2 separate regions of the Homo sapiens genome follow, and region 2 is linked to region 1. The links come from fine-mapping of genetic effects on plasma protein levels. A gene starts in region 1. The other region holds a variant in brackets. All regions are shown on one strand. Distances are between the middles of the regions. Region 1 holds the start of PKD2 (polycystin 2, transient receptor potential cation channel). Region 2 overlaps PKD2 (polycystin 2, transient receptor potential cation channel).

Region 1 (5,528 bases):
TTCTAACACTATTAGCACGTACATGTCAGACGGTGTTCCACATGCTATGGTCTGGGTGTTTGTGTTCCCCCCCCATAATTCATACATTGAAATCCTAACCTTCAAAGTGATGGTATAAGGAGCTGGGGCCTCTGAGAGGTGATTACATCATGGGGCTGGAGCCCTCACAAATGGGATTAGTGCCCTTAGAGAAGCAGCTCAAGGGAGCTCTTTTGCCCCTTCTACCATAAGACACAGCTAGGAGGTGCAGTCTATGAACCAGAAAGTAGACCCTCACCAGACCACAAATCTGCTGGCAGCATGATCTTGGACCGTCCAGCTTCCAGAACTGTAAGAAATAAAGGTTCATCGTTTATAAGCCACCCACTACATGATATTTTTTATAGCAGCCCGAATGGACTAAAACACATGTATTAATTCACCTAATCCTCACAACAACCCTATGAGGTAGGCATTATCATTATCCTCATCTTTGGTGGTACAAGGAGATAAAGTGACTTTCCCAAGGTCACACAGCTAGGAAGTAGTGAGTAAATCAGAATCCAGGCAGTCTGGCTCCAGGGTCCTTACAACGAATTAGTGACTGCAGGCACAAGCATAGAGTAACCTGACTCAAAGACCACTGAATTTTCTTCTAAGTCTGGGATTCCAGATGATTGTCTCACTAGTGCTAACAGTGAAGTATAGAAATGTGGGGGAAATATTTATGAAACCTCTTCCATTTGGAACACATTGGTGCTTCTCAAACTTTGGATGCCTGAGAATCCCCTGTGAAGATTCAGAATTTCAGGACTGGAATCCGGAAGATTTTGAGTCAATAAGGTTGGAATGTGGACCCAGTATCTATATTTTTAGCAAGAGCTGCAAGTGATGCTGGAGATCTTCTGATCACAATTTGAAAACATTGTACTAGGCCTATTCTCCAGAGGACCCTTTGGCTCAGATTCTGCATTCTCTTTCCAGGCCTGGCTCTCCTCTGTTGGAATGTGTCTGTAAGAATCCTTCGACTCTGCAGTGCTGCTGGTGCTATTCAGGACATCTTCAGCTTCAGAAGTTCCTTGGATGACAGGCACCATAACCCTTAACCCACTTGGTAATCTCTCATTTTTGGTCTGTCTCCTCTTGAGGGCCAAGGCTGTATCATACTCCTCTCTACATGCCCAGACCTTAATTCAGGGCACAGGAAATGTCTTCAGAATGAACTGATGAATAGCATGAGCTAGGGCTGTGCTCCAGACCCACCAGTCTTGCCTTTGAGAAGCTCACAGTTAAGAGAAGAACATGAATATCTAAATTAATAAACTGCAGGATCAGGTAATAGGTAGCCATAATTACCTAAATATTAGCAGCATGTTATATGTGCCTAGAGAACAAATGAATAATTCATTAAGGTGGATGGATGGCATGGGATGCCATGCTAGAGGAGTACATTAAGAGCTGTTAAAGCTAAATTGTGTCCCCCCAAAAATTTCTGTGTTGAAGTCCTAACCCCCATTACCTCAGAACATGACCATACTTGGAGACAGGGTCTTTACAGAAGTAATGAAGTGAAAACAAGGTCATGAGGGTAGGCCCTAATCCAATATGATGTATAAGAATAGACAATTAGGACACAGACGCATACAGAGGGAAGAGGGAAGACGGCGTGAGGACACAAAAGCGGGGCCATCTGCAAGCCAAGGAGAGAGGCCTCAGAAGAAACCAACTCTGCCAACACCTCGTGAGAAAATACAATTTTTCTTTTCTTTTTCCTTCCTTCCTTCTTTTTTTCTTTCTTCTCTCTCTCTCTTTCTTTCTTTATGAGACAGAGTCTCACTCTGTCACTTGGAGTGCAGTGGCCCGATCTTGGCTCACTACATCCTCTGCCTCCCGGGCTCAAGCGATCCTCCCACCTCAGCGTCCCTAATAGCTGGGACCAAAGGCACACACCGCAAAGCCTGGCTAATTTTTGTATTTTTTGTAGAGACAAGGTGAGCAAATAAATTTCTGTTAAGCCACCCAGTCTCTGGTACTTTGTTATGGCAGCCCTAACAAACAAATACAGGAGCAGATTATGAGAATTTACTAAACCAAACCACAGAAATTAAATTTTATCCTTTCAGCTGCCAGAAGCCCACAGAGGTGTCTAAGCATCAACGTGACAAATAAGCAGCTTTGGTTCTGCAATATAACCTGGAAATAGTGAGGACACCGACGTGGAGAATAGAGATGGGAGTTGACAGGGATCAATTGTTCTAATGCGGAATAATGCAAGACATAAGATCAAGCCAGCAGGAGTGAGAAACAGAGATCATATCAGGGTGATATCTGTGGGGCAAAAGTAACAAGAAGATAAGGTGTAGGCGGTGGAGGGTAAACCGCGAGGCTTCCATGAAGAAGAGTGGCCTGGGAAGTGAGGAGGACAGCGAAGCCCCAAACCTCACCTTGGGATACGGGAAGTGAAGCAGGTTCCAGAGAAGGGGACAAGATAATGACTTAGGGTAGGATAAATTTCAGACAATTGCAGAGCATCACATTAGATGTGTTCAGAAGAGTGGAAATAAAGTTCTGTGCCTAGGCCCTCATGCAGGATTCTGTTGCTAGAAGTCAGTGCTGGCCGCAGGGAGACCGGAGATCACAGTGGAGGCACCAGCGATCCGAGAGTCCTATGACGAATCCCTGGGATCCCCACAATGTGTGGAGACAGAAGCCAACCAAAGAGCGAGAAAGCATCTCCAAACCAGCAGAATCAGGGGCAGGAGGCCCGCCAAATGCACAGCAAGTCAGCCTTGGTAGTTTGCAAATGGAAAGATTTCTTTGACCCGCTGGAGACTTCAGCTCAGGCTGGATGTCGCTAATTCACACCATCTCACCAAAAGGTTCTTTCCCTGCCCTTTGGTGAATCGAGGCAGAAGTGGCTGGTGGATAACTGGGACCCAAGAGTTATCTCAGCGTCGGGCAGGCATCGACAGCTCCAGGAGCCCTTTCCCTGCAGGCGGGCTGGCGGGTGAGCGATTCCCTCCCTTCCCAGGCCTTCCCGGGAATGGAACGTGGGCGCCCGCGCCCGGGCTCCGGTTCCACTTGGAACGCGGACTCGGGAGCCGCCGGGCGAGCGCGCAGACCGCGGGGGCGGCTCCCTCGCACCTCCCCGCTCAGCGCGCCGCGGCGGATGGGCGAGGCGGGGCGAGGCCAGAGGGAGGCGGGCCAAAGGGGCGGGCGAGAGGACGCGGGACCGCGGGGAGGTCGGGGGCGGGGAGCAGGCGGCGGCGGGCGCCGGGAAGAAAGGAACATGGCTCCTGAGGCGCACAGCGCCGAGCGCGGCGCCGCGCACCCGCGCGCCGGACGCCAGTGACCGCGATGGTGAACTCCAGTCGCGTGCAGCCTCAGCAGCCCGGGGACGCCAAGCGGCCGCCCGCGCCCCGCGCGCCGGACCCGGGCCGGCTGATGGCTGGCTGCGCGGCCGTGGGCGCCAGCCTCGCCGCCCCGGGCGGCCTCTGCGAGCAGCGGGGCCTGGAGATCGAGATGCAGCGCATCCGGCAGGCGGCCGCGCGGGACCCCCCGGCCGGAGCCGCGGCCTCCCCTTCTCCTCCGCTCTCGTCGTGCTCCCGGCAGGCGTGGAGCCGCGATAACCCCGGCTTCGAGGCCGAGGAGGAGGAGGAGGAGGTGGAAGGGGAAGAAGGCGGAATGGTGGTGGAGATGGACGTAGAGTGGCGCCCGGGCAGCCGGAGGTCGGCCGCCTCCTCGGCCGTGAGCTCCGTGGGCGCGCGGAGCCGGGGGCTTGGGGGCTACCACGGCGCGGGCCACCCGAGCGGGAGGCGGCGCCGGCGAGAGGACCAGGGCCCGCCGTGCCCCAGCCCAGTCGGCGGCGGGGACCCGCTGCATCGCCACCTCCCCCTGGAAGGGCAGCCGCCCCGAGTGGCCTGGGCGGAGAGGCTGGTTCGCGGGCTGCGAGGTAAGAGCGCGCGACCCGCAGCGGCAGATGCACGAACCAGAACGGCCGGCGCCGGCCGGGGCCATCGCCCGCTGCGGCAGCTCCCCGGGCTCCATCTCGCATCCCCTCTGCGTTCCGCCTCCCTTGGAAGCGCATTCCCCACCTCCGCTAGTGCTGCCCTATTTCCGGTACCCAGCGCGGAATTCCACTGCTCTTTTGTTGGTGCATATTTATTGGATACCTCCTTCTTCAGGATATGTCACCATAGTCTTTTTTACTGAAAATTAGTGAAAGCCTAATTAGAGTGAAAGAGTACATCTGGGTTTTGTTTTTTTTTTTCTTGTAGAGGAAAAAATGAACATTACTTGTGTAACTGATGGTAGTTGCAACTGCATATTTGCCAATGTCACAAAATCTAAAGGAAAATGTTATAGTCACCCGTGGTTTCCTTCTTGCCTGGACACTCCATTGTCCCGGGCTGAAAAGGGTAGCAGTACAGTGCATATAATGTCAAGTTGTGGGAGGAGTGTGGCAGATTGTCATTGGTGCATTTTTTTGGTGATGTGTGTGGTTGTTTTGAGGAGTGGGAGCTGTTAAGAACACCACAAATAGAATAAAATAATATCGTGAAGTTATTTGGCCGTTTCTAATTCTAGACATTTTTCTAAAAACAGTTGCAAAGGAAAGATTACATTGTTTTAAAAAAATTTGAAGTATGTTTTTAAATAACTAAATTAATGTTCTTTGAAATTCCACCAAAATGATGAAGTCACCAGATAGCAGCTGATAAATGTGTCTGAGCCCAGTGCGCCCAGCTCTACAAAAGGCAGAAGAGGAATTTTCAAATTTGCCAGTGCCCAGTAAGAGGACATGAATTTTCTAGTACCAGAGGAAATTCTCTTTTTACAAATTTTGTCAGAGGTATCCTTGGGAAAGTATTTCATTTGCTTTTACCCTCCAAATTATTTTAATCTATATTTTTAAGAGTTTCCATTCTCAGTTGAGTTTTTCTTGTTCTTCTCCTTCTGTCAGTTTTGAAAGTCTTGCACAAAAACAATCCAGGTGTTGTTACAGCAGTGTGATTAAAACCAGGTCAGGCCTACACTGAAATCCCAGTTCCACCACTCATTAGCTGTACGACCTTGAGCAAGTTACTTATCCTCTCTGATACCCAATTTTTGGATTTTTTTTTTTTTTAAAGAGATGATCATAACGCTTAGGACTTGACTCTTTGGGAGAATTAAGTGAGTTAAGACATAAAATGTGCAGCATGTATTTGTCATGTTATTAGCGCTTCAGAAATATAAATGTAAACATTTTGGTACTTCGTTTATGGAGATTCTTATACTAGTTAATTTTATTAAAAGCATGATGGGGAACAGAAGATCCTTTTCGGATAACCTGTGTGAGTAAATTAATAAAACACTAACACTTTTTAAGATTCAAAACTGGATTAATTATGTTATTTTACACCATTTAAAATGTGCATTTAAAAAATATTCACTGAAGTGAGAGAGAAGTTCCTTTTAAGTTAATAAATAATGGTAAGTTGCATGATCCTTTTAACTCAGTTTAAGCATTTGATAACACCCCTAACCTTGTTTGAATAAACTCAATA
Region 2 (5,000 bases), 44 kb after region 1:
CTTATATGGATTTATTTATGTTTAGGCCATTGAAATAATGGTAGAAAGGTAAGTATGATATGCTAATTAAGAACAGACTTCCTTTTTATATTTTAACCAAAGAACTCAATATCAACAAAAGACTAGTCAGTGGTATTCACCCTTTTTGATCATACACACCTATCAGTGAAAGCTTTGACTACTACACACCCTAATTTATTATCTTTATTTGTAAATTGTGTGCCTACTTTGGTGTAACAGGTACATCCGTAAAACATACACATACATAGAATTTTAAAGATTGGAATAAAAGTTAATACAAATAGAATTCCAAAACTTTCTTACCACCTACCTAGAAGTTGTAACATTTTCTTCCCATAGCCCAGTGAATTGCCTTGCACCTGCTTTGGCGACCAATAGGAAGAAAGGCAATGATATCATGGAAATTGTCTCTTTGGCTCAACAGCCACAGCATTTTGCAAGTGTTTCTTTGAAAACTTGCTTCACTGTGTTTTTCAATTTTTTTTTTAAACAACACTTAATACTGCCAGACAACAATTCAGACAGTGTGCTTTTTGTTTATAAAGAACAAGGAAGGGCTACTGGAATCTCACTTGTCCTTTGAAACTTTTGCTGACCAAGTGTAGAAGTGAGGGCATGCCTTCTGCTCACCCACAAAACACACCCTGTGCTCCACTGGACCTTCAAACCAGTGGAAAGACCCAACGCTTTTTGTTTTATCTAGCCAAAATTTGCTTATGCTTACCCAAAACCTGAAAAGAAATTATATTCTTAATATAAATACAATCACATCTTGAAATCACTTTGAAATTTTCTTTATTTTCCTTTTTTCTTTCCCCAACATATGTTCTGAAGTACACAGGCTGCATCAGTCAGCCATTTGTCCTGAGCAATAGTCTTTCAAAACTAGAAGAATTACTTGAAAAAAAGAAGACTATTAAGGAATTTAAACTCAAATAATTTATTGACCACTTGCTAGGTTGTACAGGGTAAATTTTTTTTTTTTTTTTTTTTTTTGAGATGGAGTCTTGCTCTGTCACCCAGACTGGAGTACAGTGGCACCATCTCGGCTCACTGCAAGCTCTGCCTCCCGGGTTCACGCCATTCTCCCTCCTCAGCCTCCTGAGTAGCTGGGACTACAGGTGCCTGCCACCATGCCCAGCTAATTTTTTGTATTTTTAGTAGAGACAGGGTTTCACCGAGTTAGCCAGGATGGTCTCGATCTCCTGACCTCGTGATCCGCCCACCTCAGCCTCCCAAAGTGCTGGGATTACAGGCGTGAACCACCGCGCCTGGCCCGACTAATTCATTTATTCAGCGAGTGTTTTCTGAGCACCTACTATGTACTTGCCACTGTTCTAGGCACTGGGGATACAGGAATGAACAAAATCACCCAAATCTCTGCCCTCCCAATTTTCTGGTATGGAGAGAAAGTTCTTTTGTAGATAGGGATGAGAATCCCACAGAAAACTCAGGAGTGATGTAACAATGCAAATGCTCACAAAATCTCTTTCCTCATCTTTCATTCCCTATTTGGAAGGAAAGGTTTCAAAGACATTGATGTTGTATAAATGACCATCTTCTTCATTATTTTATAAACATTTGTCCTGTGCAGAGTAAAAACAACTGGACTGCATAACAAATTATACCTATTGAGAGTTGGGTAAAGAGTTACCATTGGATCCAGTCCACCAACCCAAATGTTTTTCTACATGTATTAGCTGAGATGAGCTCCTCATCTCAGGAGAAGCCTATTCCCACTGCAGGCCTTCTTGAGTCTGCTGTGTTCATCATTCCCACCACCAACACAAAAATACAAGATTGGCTCTGGAAATCCTTCACAGAGAAGGAAGGAAAGGAAGATGGTGAGGTTGGCTTTTTAGCTGTGATCAGCAACCAAGCTGGTCTTTGCTATGAGAATCAGTGGGACCATGATCTCTATGGTCATCTCAGGAAGGGAGGGCTAATGAAGTGGTCTCTGGCCATGATTCCTAAGAAGAGAGAATGGACAGCAAAGATCGCAGCACCTGCCACAGCCCACCTGCTGCAGATTCAGACCCCCTGGTGGGGCCAGGTTGTTATGACTAACCCCTAGCACTGTCTACATTTAGTGGTGATGGATGCCAAGGAGGGGGCAGTGTCCCCTTGGATCTGATTGTAAAGCTTAGAACCAAAGCATATGTGGAAAGTTGTAGGGTCATGAGTTAAGGGACAGAAATGAGCAAGAGAGAAGCCCTTGGCTCATATATTCCCACTGCAGGCCTTCTTGAGCCCTCTGTATTCATCATTCCCACTGTCTTTCAAGCCCAAGCTCATGCTTTGTTCTCATGGGCACTCATTTTTAGGATATCTTTTGTCCCTCTTGACTTTATGTTGTGTGATACCAACTCTTTAGTAGTTTTTTGTATTATTTAACTTCATGTGTTTATCTGCTCTTGAGTCTCGAGGGCAGGATTTATGCAGTTTACTTCTGTTTATTCCTCTTAGCCCTTGCACAGTGCTGTATACATAGACATCTACTATATTTTTGTTAAACAGAGCAAAGAATGGCTGGCAATTGGAGAATGCAGAGAAACCGAAAAATTTTAAATTTAAAAATCACAAATAAAAACAGCAGGATGAAGGCAAGAAAGCAAAAGGGTGGAAAGTGATTAAAATGAAGGTGGCAGAAAAAACAGAAAGCATTCCTCTTTGAGTTTGAGTCTGTTATAGTGTGATCTCTTCTGTGTATGCATGTATGTGTGTGTAATGTATATGTGCACACACATGCATGCATGCCTTCGTTGAGTTTCTATTCCGAACTAAGGAAATGCAAGCAATATACTGTTTTACTTATTTTATGGCAGGGCTTAACACTTTCCATTTGAGTGAGTGACTT[T/C]TAAGAATGACATCGGGTAAGTATAATGGTGAGCCCTTATAATTAATACATTGGTGAAGAAAAATATACTAGTCATATTAAGGTAAGTTTCATATTTCTAAAACACTGTAATAAAATATAAATATTTTGCTTTTCAGCTGTCAGTGGTAGCTATAGGAATTAACATATACAGAACATCAAATGTGGAGGTGCTACTACAGTTTCTGGAAGATCAAAATACTTTCCCCAACTTTGAGCATCTGGCATATTGGCAGATACAGTTCAACAATATAGCTGCTGTCACAGTATTTTTTGTCTGGATTAAGGTAATTTATAAATTTCATGTTCTACATTTTAAATAATATTTTCTTTAAAAAAAATGAGTTCCACAAAATCATGGAATACTTGAATTTGAAATTCAAGTGACCAGCCAAAGCTGCTCAATATTTACTTTGAGACAGGGTCTCACTCTGTCACCCAGGCTGGAGTGCAGTGGTATGATTACAGCTCATTGCAGCCTCGACTTCCCAGGCCCAAGCGATCCTCCCACCTTATCCTCCGAAGTCACTGGGACTACAGGCATGTGCCACCATACCCGGCTAATTTTTAAATTTTTTCGTAGAGACAAGGTCTCATTATGTTGCCCAGGCTGGTTTTGAACTCCTGGGTTCAAGCAATCCTCCCACCTCAGCCTCCCAAAGTGCTGGGATTACAGGCATGAGCCACCGTGCCAGGCCTCATATTTTACATATAAAGTAAACTATTGAGACTCATGTGATCATTCCTCTCACTGTCAATGACATACTTCTGCTATCTGAATTAGTGCAAGATCAGTCCCTATAGGTTTTGTTTAACAAATGCAGTAAGAGGCCTTTCAGTGTGTTAGCTGGGCCTGGGGCCCCAGGCTGCTAACAGATGAGATGAACAGGTGAAGGAAAAGGAACTTAGAGAAAGAGAGGGAAGGAGCAGGTGGAGGGAAGGGGAGAGTTGCTGCACTTGGAAATGCTTGCTAGAAGGGATCGCCTCTTTTCCAGGTAGAGGCTGTAAGGGAAGCTTTACCTAGAATTAAGGTTGGAACAGACACTGCTTCCAAATAGTTCCTTGCTCACTATTTTCCTTATTGTCCCAAGATATAATGTGCATTTCCATGTGTGTGAAAGGTTATGACATTTCATATACAACAAGCCTCAATTCTGGAGATGCAGGAAATTTCAATAATTCTCAGGCAGCAGCTGCCATTCGGTCACCAGCACAGGCTCTGATTGTGCTGTCCAGACAGTAAGTACTAGCCACATGTGCCTATTTAAATTCAAATTTAAATTAGTTAAGCTTAAATACAATTAAAAACGCAGTTCCTTGGTCCTACTGGCCACACATTAAGTGTTCAATGGCTACTGTCTAGGACAGTGGAAATGTAGAACATTTCCATCATCACAGAACGTTCTCTTGAAAAGCACTGTTCTGGAAGGTACTTACCCGTTATGTACTTTTCTGAGTTGGTATTCATACCTAGAAGACCTGAGGTTTATCACAAGACATAGACTTGGACCAGGCGCAGTGGCTCATGCCTGTAATTCCAGCATTTTGGGAGGCCGAGATAGGTCCCCTGAGCCCAGGAGTCTGATACCAGCCTGGGCAACATGGCAAAACCTCATCTCTACTAAAAATACAAAAATTAGCTGGGGGTGGTGGCACGTGCCTGTAGTCCTAGCTACTTAGGAGGCTTAGGCGGGAGGATTGCTTGAATCCAGAAGGCGGAGGGTGCAGTGAGCCAAGATCGCACCGCTGCACTCCAGCCTGGGCAACAGAGTGAGACCCTGTCTCAAAAAAAAAAAAAAAATGCATAGACTTTATCCTGTATTTCTCATGCTATTTATTTATTGACATGCTTGTTCAAGAGAAACCATCACTAAAGCACAAAACCTTGATCATAACATAGTAATAATAATCAAACAGCAAAAATAATAATAGTAATAAGAATGTTCTGTGGTGATGGAAATGTTCTATATTTTCATTGTCCTAGACAGTAGCCACTAACCATGTATAGGCATGGAACACTTAACATGTGGCTAGTAGGACCAAGGGACTGAATTTTTAATTGTATTTAATCTTACTTAATTTAAATTTGAATTTAGATATCCAC

Evidence for each region. PIP is the chance, under the fine-mapping model, that this variant and not a neighbour inherited with it causes the effect. Protein levels are from antibody-based Olink assays in UK Biobank. Linkage for the fine-mapping came from a reference panel and not from the study's own genotypes, which makes the PIPs less certain.
Region 2: its variant is fine-mapped to the plasma level of the PKD2 protein (UK Biobank, PIP 0.91).

What each region holds. Positions count from the first base shown.
Region 1 is chr4:88,004,398-88,009,925 of GRCh38, forward strand. It overlaps PKD2 (polycystin 2, transient receptor potential cation channel), which reads left to right and starts at 3,238. Exons shown (of 15, transcript NM_000297.4): 1 at 3,238-3,931. The coding sequence starts at 3,337. RefSeq lists silencers at 3,001-3,930, 3,981-4,120.
Region 2 is chr4:88,048,976-88,053,975 of GRCh38, forward strand. PKD2 (polycystin 2, transient receptor potential cation channel) reads left to right here. Exons shown (of 15, transcript NM_000297.4): 7 at 3,016-3,183. Among named protein-coding and RNA genes, the nearest start is that of PKD2, 44 kb to the left of the region's middle. The variant T/C (reference allele first, on the strand shown) is at 2,879.